2 separate regions of the Homo sapiens genome follow, and region 1 is linked to region 2. Evidence: fine-mapped expression QTL. A gene starts in region 2. The other region holds a variant in brackets. All regions are shown on one strand. Distances are from middle to middle. Region 1 has its middle 14 kb from the start of LINC02970. Region 2 holds the start of SLCO4A1-AS2 (SLCO4A1 antisense RNA 2).

Evidence for each region.
Region 1: its variant is fine-mapped to the expression of SLCO4A1-AS2 in whole blood (TOPMed, PIP above 0.99).

Annotation. Positions count from the first base shown.
Region 1 is chr20:62,615,162-62,620,528 of GRCh38, forward strand. No RefSeq gene overlaps it. Among named protein-coding and RNA genes, the nearest start is that of LINC02970, 14 kb to the left of the region's middle. RefSeq lists enhancers at 1,644-1,793, 3,461-3,510. The variant A/G (reference allele first, on the strand shown) is at 3,215.
Region 2 is chr20:62,649,209-62,654,575 of GRCh38, forward strand. It overlaps SLCO4A1-AS2 (SLCO4A1 antisense RNA 2), which reads right to left and starts at 2,978. Exons shown (of 2, transcript NR_183965.1): 1 at 2,602-2,978; 2 at 1-2,300. All of the region lies in intron 1 of SLCO4A1 (solute carrier organic anion transporter family member 4A1), which reads left to right. RefSeq lists enhancers at 2,090-2,389, 2,400-2,489, 3,270-3,459 and silencers at 2,670-2,849, 2,960-3,089.

The sequences.
Region 1 (5,367 bases), 34 kb before region 2:
TCGTGAGACAGCCTGGCACGCACGACGCGAACTGAGTGACTCTGCCCAGCGGAAGCACAGAACAGGCCAAACTGGCAAACGGCGTGGCACGTCCTCAAAAATCAAAAGTAGAATCACCTTGGGATTCAGCAGTGCCGCTTCTGGAAACCGGGTATGTGGCCGAAGACCTGAAAGCTGGCTCTGCACTTGTACACCTGTGTTCCCAGTAGCCTTAGTCACAGTAGCCCAAAGGTAGAAGCCACCAAGCGCCCCTCGGTGGATGAACAAAATGTGGTCTATTCACACAACGGAATATTACTCAGCCTTAAAAAAGAAGGGACTGCTAACACCGGCTACGAACTGCACGGCCCCGGAGGACACTGTGCTGAGTGAAATAAGCAGACACAGAAAGACAGGTCCTGCGTGCCTCCACTCGTACGAGGTTCCTAGAGTGGCCACACGCGTAGAGACAGAAAGTAGAGTGGGGGTAGGAGTGGCAGGGAGTTGCTGTTTCATGGGGACAGAGCCTCCGTTTGGGATGATGAAAGTTCAGATGGTGGGTGGTGGTAGCGGTTGCATGTACGTGTTTCTGTGTGTTGTTGTCCATGTACATGTTTTGGTGTGTCGTTGTCTGTGTACATGTTGTTTCTGTGTGTTGTTGTCTGTGTACATGTTTCTGCATGTTGTTGTCTGTGTACATGTTGTTTCTGTGTGTTGTTGTCTGTGTACATGTTCCTGCATGTTGTTGTCTGTGTAGGCCATGAATCTGCATCACGCCAGTGTGTTTATAATGTTCATGCTGCACATGTCTGTCAAATGAGCCAACGTGGTGCGTGTTTTATGATCTTTCACTCGATCACATGTTGAGCACTGTGCGGGCTCAGGTCGCTGTCACATCATGGGGGCTGCAGAGTAGAGACCGACCAGCCGACCCGGCACGTTGCCTGGGGCTGGGCTTGGATCTCTTGGGGATCGTGGTGGGTAAGAGTGAGGAGGGGTCCCCATTCTGAAAGGCATGAACAATGCTTTCATTTGCCCCTTACCCCCAAGATTCCAGTTGGTCAGGGAGTCCCCCTTCTCCTGCCCTCCTGGGTTAGGGGTCCTGGCCTTTGGTGGGTAGGGGGCAAAGTGATGAGTAGAATCTAAACATGCTGTCATGGTTTCAAATGGTGGTAAGGCTGTTCATTCACCTGGGTAACCAGTGCCCCCATCTTTCAGGGTCTGTGGGATTAGAAGCAACTTTTATTCCAGCCTCTTGACTTATTCTTATTTTCTAAACTTCTATAATGAACTTGTGTTGGTTTTTTAAAAGGAAAGAAAATGTATTTCCGGCCAGGCGCGGTGGTGGCTGAAGCCTGTAATCCCAGCACTTTGGGAGGCTGAGGCAGGCAGATCACCCGAGGTCAGGAGTTTGAGACCAGCTTGGCCAACATGGCAAAACTCTGTCTCTACTAAAAATACAAAAATTAGCAGGGCGTGGTGGCACACGTCTGTAATCCCCATGCATTTGGTGGCGATGTGAGGCCCAGTTGGACTTCCTGCATGCAGAACTGATTAGAGGCACCTGGGCCTCCCCTACCCGTGTGCTGGGGGCCTCCTCTGACCTCTGCACCTGGAGCTTGCAGGTAGATGCTGAAGTTGAGCTTCCCTGCACCTTAGTGTTCTGGGATCCCAAATCTATCCACCCCGCTGCTCCACCCTGCTCAGGGTGCCCATCAAGGGCCGTGGGGACTATAGCTCATCAGAGACCTTCCTGTTCCTCCTCAGAGATGCTGGTTTCCGAGGAGTCCCAGGAGGGCTCCCAGCAGGGGCCGACGGACATCCACACAGCAGCAGATTCCAGCTGGGGTCGCTGGGTGCCTGGGCTCAGCAGGGGCGAGGCTGCCCTCTCATGGCCAGGAGAGGCACTGCCTGGGAGGCCAGTGGGAAGGCCCCGGGGACTTCACAGGTCCACACCCGCAGGGAGAGGAGTGGACCCCACGCAGGGATTGGGCTGTTGGGGCCTCTGTGCCTCCCGGAACCCCACGCATTTGGTGGTGACGTGAGGCCCAATTGGACTTCCTGCATGCAGAACTGATTAGAGTTACGAGAAAGACTTTTTAAAAAAAGACCCTGAGATGTCAGCTTTGGCAGCTGTACCTACCGGTGGAAGAACAGGCTCCTTCCCTCAAGCATGACTGAAAACCGTTTAAAAAGAAGTGCTCTGATTCAATGGTTCCCAGTTACACCGAGTTATGGAGACATCGTCCCTGGAGCGGGGCCCGCAAGAGTCTTTCCCTCCCATGGGGCAACGCAGTGGCTGCGGATCCCAGCCAGCCCCGAGGGACACAAGTGTGGCCGTGGTCAGCTGCGGCTTTGCTAGAGGCCCTCCCTGCTCTCATGAGACCCCGAGGGTGTTGGCTTTCTGCCCCCAAGACTGACAAATGGCCAGGTGGGCCTGCAGGTGACCTCCTTCCCTCATGGGCAGCAGGAACCAGGTGGGCCCCCACAGTGCCTGGGGCAGCTTATGCAGCAGTTACAGAGATCTGGATCTGGGTGAGTGTTTCCTTTTATTCCTTCTTATATTTTCAAAAATATAATATGTCTATGCATAGAAAAATGCCCGCAGCATATGCAGAAGTCACCAGCACATACTGGGATGATCCCAGGAGGCAGTGGTCAGTGAGGTCAGTGGGGTCCCCTGCCCCAAGGCCACCTAGGGGCCCAGCCTTGCCTGGGGCCAAGACATCACTGAGCAATGAAGATGTGAGCCTGGGGCACCTGTGACTCTGCGTGTCACTCCAGAGCCCAGCTGAGGCGCTGGAAGGGGCTCCAGGAAAAGCCAATTTGGGCACCCGGAGGGGTGACACCCACAGTGGCCCAGGTCTTCTGCTTTCTTGAAATCCACGAGATTTTGATGAAATAAAAGCCATTGGCGCCTCCTTGGGGTCTCACAGTCTCACGTGACAACCGGGAGAGAAGCCGGAGGTGGGTGGGTCAGGCCATTCCGGGCACACAGCGGGACAGCAGACCCTGAGGACACTTGTCCCCGCCTGGGAGTTCTCCACCCTCCTGTTCTCGGATGTGACTCAGCAATGCCAGGGCTCTGCAGCTCCGGGAAGGCCCCGAATCGGCCTGCCAGGCCCACTGTGAGACACGAGGAGGAAGGGGTGGCGGCTCCTCAGCCGACACTACCCCAGGCAGGCTTCCTGTTTGTGCCCCACTAGGACCTGTCTCCTGCACGGCCAGCCCTGAG[A/G]GCCCCACAGGGTTCGTCTGTTTCTCCCCCAGAGACCAGGAGGCTGGAGGGATCCGTGGGCCCATTTTACAGATGGCATAGGGCAGAGACTCGAGGCCAGGCCTAGGTCTGGCCTCACACCTGACCCCCACCTGCCCCCAGCCAAAGGTCACAACCCCAACCCCCTCCACATCCGTAGGTCATGCCTTGGAAAACTGCCCCACCCATGCAGAAGATGGGAGATTTTGTCTAAGAAAAGAATGATGGCTTTGCAAATATTTCCACTCTGGTTCCCCATGACAGTTCACTGTGAAACCCCGGTGACCCCACATGACCTGCCGTTTCCTGTACAAGGGGGTCCCAGGTCTGAGTAATTTTGAGATCACGAGGTCCCAGGATGTGGCATTTGACACGGGCAGCTAAGGCCAGGAGCAGCCAGCAACCCCAGAGCCCAGCCCCTCCCCGGGGCTCTGAGGGGAGGAATTCTCTCCCCCGGGTAAATGCACCCAGGTGGAGGTGTCAGGTCAGCCACACAGACCGACCTTCCCGCCCAACGCTCCTGACTCACCAGGGCTGGAGGACCACCAGGGACCTCCCTGAAGGCTCCATCCTGTGTGGGCTGACTGTGGGGCCAGAGAAAGAGGAAGCTTCCAGGCTGGGCCCCACTACCCAAGAACCTAAAGCAGCCCCCGGTTCTGCACGGGGAGCAGCGTCTCCTCTTGCCCCCTGGCTGGTGAGCAGAGCTTCCTTCCACAAAGCGGGGGGTCAGTGGAGACAGCCCACTCTATCCCCAAAATGCTGGGCCAGTCGGGGGATGGGCCACTCTGTCTCTGAAATGCCAGACCAGATTGTTCATCTGCAGGGTTTCTTCGGCGCGAGATGAGAGGCCTCTGGTCCCATCCTAGGAACCACGGCCCAGACTGTCCCTGCCTCAGAAGAGTGACATGGACACCCACACACAGTCCCCCCAAACAGAGACACACACGCCGACAAACCTGTGCACGCTCATGCCCACTCACACGCCACACCCCCTCCCCTGCTGGGCACCAGATAATGGAGCTGCGGAGCTGTGTGGCTGCAAGCCGCCCTTTCCGAGCTTCTGCTAGGTGGTGTGTTCAAACCTGCAGGCTTCGAAGAGTTCTGAGCATCTAGAAGAGCAGAGTCCAGTAAAAATGTAGCAAAGCCACGCATGTAAGTTTACCTGTGCTGGCAGCCATACTGACAAAAGGGAAAATAAACAAATGAGATTAATTTTAATACTTTTTTATTTATTTATTTATTTTTTGATACGGAGTTTCGCTCTTGTTGCCCCAGCTGCAGTGTAATGGCACAATCTCGGTTCACTGCAAACTTTAGCTCCCAGGTTCAAGCTATTCTCCTGCCTCAGCCTCCCAAGTAGCTGGGATTACAGGTATGCGCCACCACGCCCAGCTAATTTTGTATTTTTAGTAGAGACAGGGTTTCTCCATGCTGGTCAGGCTGGTCTCGAATTCCCAACCTCAGGTGATCCGCCCGCCTCGGCCTCCCAAAGTGCTGGGATTACAGGCATGAGCCACGGCACCCAGCCAATACTATTTTTATTTAAATCCAATAGAGCCATAATATTATCACTTGGATAATCAATACAAAGAATTATTATTTTGAGGGATGGAGTCTCGCTCTGTCACCCACGCTGGGGCACAGTGGCGCAATCTCGGCTCACTGCAACCTCTGCCTCCCGGGTTCAAGTGATTCTCCTGCCTCAGCCTCCCGAGTAGCTGGGATTGCAGGCGTGTGCCACCCCATGCCCAGCTAATTTTTGTATTTTTAGTAGAGATGGGGTTTCGCCATGTTGGCCAGGCTGGTTTCGAACTCCTGACCTCAGGTGATCCACCTGCCTTGGCCTCCCAGAGTGCTGGAATCACAGGCATGACCCACCATGCCTGGCCTAAAGAATTATTAAAGAGTGATTTTACTCTCCCTTTTTTCTACTAAGTCTTTAAAATCTAGTGTTTGTTTTACACTTATAGACCATCTCAATCAGACACTAAATTTTTATCAGAAATCCTTGATTGTATTTAGATTTAATAAAATGTAGAGTAAAAAAGTATATTGTCACCCAAATTGTTTCAAACAAACTTGAAAGTTTTTAATAATGGAAATGGGTATTGGTTTTAAATTTTTAAGACAATACA
Region 2 (5,367 bases):
TGGCATTTCAGTCCAAGCCCAAAGGCAGGAAAAGACCGAGGTCCCAGCTGCAGCTGTCACAGGAGGAGGCCCTCTCACTCAGCCTTTGGATCTATGTAGGCCCCCAACTGATTGGACGAGGCCCACCACCCTGGGGAGGGCCACCCTTCACATGCTAATCTCACCTGGAAACACCCACAGCACACCCAGAACGATGCTTGGCTAAATGTCTAGGCACCCAAGGCCCACTCAGGTTGACACATGAAATTCGCTATCACAGTGCTCTTGGCCCTGACCCTGAGACCATCGCACATAGCGTCAGAGGCTGTAGAGTGGGCCCTGCAGAGGCCAGGAAGCAGATGCCCTGGTGTTAGATGCAGTCAGGGTGTTCAGATGAGGATGACAGTGGACTCGACCTGGGATGCTGACAGGAGCCAGGGTGGCCTGGGGGCTGGCCGCTGGCCTGTCCTTCACAGGGGGTGCAGTCTCCTGCACCCCATGGCTGTCCCATCCCTGCCCCGGGTCTCCCACCCCCTCCTCTGCCACGTGGCTGCCACTGCCCGGCCTTCCACAACTGCCTTTCAGCCTCACCCCATCTGCAGACTCCTCATTTGCAGCACCGGGGTTCACCTGCATCTGGCCTCATCAGCAGGTGCAGTCTTATCTGCGTATAAACCAGCCCACCCCATGCAGCCAGCTTGGGATGAGAGGACGGTCATGGGGTCCCCGTGGCCCTTGGAGGGAGGCCTTTGGAAGAGGCAGGTCCTTTGAATTTGGTCTGGGGTCAAGGCTGCCTGCAGCTCCCTCCCCAGCTCCGTAGTGGGGGCTGTATCCATGCATCAGAAGAAGCTGCTGCCTTTTCCGGGGGAAGCTGAGGGTGTGGATCGGAAGAAGCCGCTGCCTTTTCCAGGGGAAGCTGAGGGTGTGGCTCTGGGATGAGGATGAGGCTCCATCCTTCACTGTTACAGGGACCAGCTTGGGAAGCTGACGCACCTTTTTGTCAAAACCAATTCCAAGTGGAAAGAAACTATAGGCAGGTGTGCATGTGTACACACACCTACACAGACGTGCACACACAGGATGCCAGAAAGAAGAATCAAAAGGACAGGCCTCCCTTCTTCCCCAAGCCCAGCTGCAATGTCCTGTTCCCCTTGGTGGGGCCAGTCCAGGGGCTAGGCAGCCTCTACGTGGGGCTGCCATGAGGCCCTTCCAGCCCCTGAAACTCCCCTGCCCCACCCCACACCAGCTTATCCATAATGGGCCTGAGACCAGAAAACCAAAGGTGTGGGCTGCCGAGCTGCCCGCCTTAACGCGGACCAGACATCATTACTCCAGTCTCCATTAGCAGTGAACGCAGAGGTGACGTTCACCTTCTCACTGAGCCATGAGTGCATCTGCCTTGGCCATCTCGGAAGCTAGCAGATCGCAGAAGGAAAGCAACATGTGAGTGGCGCGGGTGGTCCTCATGGGCCCCAGCAGCATTTGTCATTGATGGAACTGATGACCGAGACCAGGATGGGGGCGCTGGCTGCCTCCACCAAGCATGCGTCTGGCTGTCCACATTGCTGGACTCGGCTGCTGCGGCTAAGATGCTTTCATGTCCCACGTTGGGCTGGTTTTCGTGGCAAACGTTAGCCCTGAAATGTAAGTCCTGCACCGCACGTTCAGCAAGGACTCCCTCAGGTCCGGGCCAAGCCTTGACATACATGCTGGGCACCCACTTCTCCAGGCAGAGTTCTCATCCCTCTGGCTCACCAGCTCAGAACGGCACGCTCAGTAAATGCCAGTGCTTAGGACGTATCCATGTGAGGTCTTGGTACAATCCTGGAAACTTCCTTTGGGAAATGCATGAATGTGGGACCCTCCTCATCGCCCTGAGAGTCCAGAGTGTTGCCTGCCCAGCGTCACTCCACAACCCATCTGTCCCCTGGATGGCAGGAGCCAGGCCAGACGCCCCATCATAGCCAGCTTTTATGTTTGCTCCTGTTGTCCTTTAGCCCTGAGTCATGGAAGGCCCACCCTCCCCTTTCCAATCTAGACACCGCTGTTTTAATGGGGAAACGGCCTCCCAGAGAAGATTTCCAGCTTCAGAAGAGAACCCGGAGCTGAAACTCTTGGGCATGATGAAGATGGAATGGGTACTGTCACACACATGCTGCTTGCGTGAGATTCAGATAAGGGAGGCTGGCCCGAAGCCAGGTCGCTGCTGGATCTCAGAAAGACGTCAGAACGAGGCCCCAACGGAAGCCCCTGGAGGTGCACAGCTGGTGAGCTGAGTGGTGCCATGTAATTCTCATCGTCTGCGGCCGTCTGATGGGCATCTGTCGGAAGCCACATGGCTGATATTTAAAAGAGGATTTTAAATTTGCTGATTTAAATGTGCATAATAGGTAACTTTCGGCTGAGCTTTACATATTTATGTCAGAGCTTTTAATTCAGGTAAAACAGCCTTCAGCTTGGAGCTGTTTGGACACCTACAACTACCTGTTCTTTCTCAGTTGTGGCTTTCATTTTCAAGAAGGAAGTCCTTCTGTTTCTCTGTGGCCATTGCTGGTCACGAAACTTAGCAATCTGGCTTCCTCTCAAAGCTATGCAGACGGGATCCTCCCCCTTCCCCCTTACCTGCTTTGGCCCCAGCGTCTGGTCCTGAGGCCAGGGCTGAACAAACTGCCTGTATGAGGCAAGCCCAGTGCCCGGGCGTTGAGCGGGTGTTTCACGGCAGCCAGCGTCTTGGTTCGCAATGGTTTACGTGGGCTTGCCCACCATTGAGCATCCCAGGGACCCCATCAGATCCTTTGCAGAAGTGCTGCCGAATCCGACCCACTCCCCCTGCCCCCGCCTCCCCCACCCTGCCCCGCCCCACACCCCCCACCCCCGCTCGGCCCCCCTCCCCGTGCCAGCACGTGCAGCTAGGCGGAACCTCTGAGCACTCTCCCGCCTGCGTCAGGCTGTTCCTTGGCCCTGTTGAGGCTCCTTCCCTTCATGTTCTGGCCCAGCCCGGAAATGAGGTCAAGTTTCTGCTATTTATGTGTGTGCGTGTGCACGTGTTTGTGTGTGTGGGTGGACCTTGACCTCCAGGCAGTCCTCAGGGTAGTTCTTGGCTCTGTGTTCCTGCACTAAGAAAAACAATGCGAGGGAAACACACCCACAGGCTGCCTGGGGAGTCTGCGTGGCTCTGAGCCTGGCCTGTCCTCCTCCGGGCCTCTGAGGTTGCTTTCTGTTTCGGCGGCCGGCGGCCGGTGGAGCCCTTGCGCCTCCTCGTCAGTCCCGCCCCGGGGCTCTTGCTCCTCCGGCTTTTCCGCTGACTCCTGGCATTCGAGTTCTTGTGTTACACATGCTCCTGGGACGTCATCCTTGTGACAGCTCGCTTCAGTAGAAAGCCTGTGGCTCGTGGGTGGCCGTGGGTGGCTCTCTGCCCCTTGGGGAGGCGTGGAGCATTGCTCTTACAATATGAATGTCTCTCCTTCCACGCACACTCCCTTTCTGACGCAGCAGGTCCCAAACCAGCCTGGCCTGCCAGCTCGTGGATAGGTGTTGGCATTGTAAATAAACCCCCGGGTGTGGCCGCGGGCACCCAGGGAGCAGGCCCCAGGCATGAATGCTGTGGAATCTCTGCTGTCCGAGGCCTCCAAATACGGCCTCAAACAGCCTCCCGGCAGTGTCCAAGGTCAACAGCGGCTGCACGTGAGTGCCACACGAGCGTGCACGGCTCTTTCAGTAGGTGTCAGAAGGCAGCTGTGACGCAGACGCTTGGCTCTGGGGCCAGACTGCGGGGGCTGCATCCTCATTGCCACCGGCGGGCTGTGTGGCCTCGAGCAAATGACTGACCCCCCTGGGCCTTCTTCCCCTACTGTGAGGCCTGGGACGGTGCCTGGTACACAGCTGGTGCTCAGTGTGCACAGCGGGTGTTAGCACCCTGCCACCCAGCGGGATTCTTCACAGCAGCTGCCCGCCTTCGTCCCAAGGAGCCTGGGGCTGAGGCATCCATTCGCTGAGAGGGCGAGACCTCCGATTCCACAGAGGAGCCCTGTGGGGACCGCGCCTCGGCAGAGGACGTGGCGGGAGGACCCAGAGCCCAGCTTTGGGGGCTCAATCCTGAGATCCCTGTGGCCTTGGGGAAGGGGTGCTGGTACCGCCAGATCTCTCCAGACGTAAAACAAGCCTTGCCTGGACCTGGGGGAGATCCCATGGCCTGCTCCCGGCCTGACCATGCTGGGCCCGGTTTATCTGCCTTCACAGATGAAGTTGCCCCTTTATTAAAAAACAAAACAAAACAAAAAAAGCCAGCAATTTGTCATCCCCAAATGCTGTAGTGTCTGTCAGCATAGGCCTGTCCCGGGGCTGGTTCTCACTGAGGCCCCTGTGTCCCCTCGCAGCCCCATGGCGGATCACCGGCTGCGCCTCCGCTCCCACCCGCCACGCTGACCTTAGAGTTAGTGTGTCTGTTAAGCTCTAACTCTGCCTCAACCCCAAGGTCATCTCTCTGGGCCCTCCTCAGGCCTCTGTCATCTCCCAAATTCGGGGGCATATGTGACACCTGTTTGCCTCCGTGGGGGCTGCTGTAAGAAATGACCACACACCAAAGGGCTTAAAAAATAGTTTATTCCCAGCCAAACACTGCATGTTCTCACTCATAGGTGGAAATTGAACAATGAGAACGCTTGGACACAGGGCAGGGAACATCACACCCCGGGGCCTGCCATGGGGTGGGGGGAGGGGGGAGGGATAGCATTAGGAGATAAACCTAATGTAAATGATGAGTTAATGGGTGCAGCACACCAACATGGCACATGTATACATATGTAACAAACCTGCATGTTGTGCACATGTACCCTAGAACTTAAAGTATAATAATAAAAAAAAATAGTTTATTCCCACCAGCTCCGGAGGCCAGGAACCCAAAGTCCACACAGGCTGTGCTCCCCCTGGGGCTCTGAGGAGGGTCCTTCCTGCCCCCAGTGGCTCCCGGGGCTCCAGGTGGTCCTGAGAGCGCCACGCCCGTCTCTGTCTCTGTCTGCAGGTGGCCTTCTCTGTGTCATCTTCTCCTCTAAAAATGCACCTGTCACCGGGTTTAGGGCCCACCCTAATCCAGGATGATCTCTTCTCAGATCACTTGTCACATCTGCAAAGACGCTTTTTCCAAATAAGGTCATGCGCTCAGGTCCCAGGTGAACGTGACTGCCCGGGGAACACGGGGGGCACCGGTCCGCCCACCCCAGCCCCAGCGCAGGCCCAGTGAGCAGACTCTGTGAGGAGCTGCCAGGAGGATCCTGGGGTATCACCCAGCCCAGGTCCCCACGGGACTGCCTGCTGTCCCTGCATCTCCGTGCATCTCTGCGCGTCGCCGGCTGTGGCTGGAAGGAGACCCCAAGGCCGGATACTTAGGGC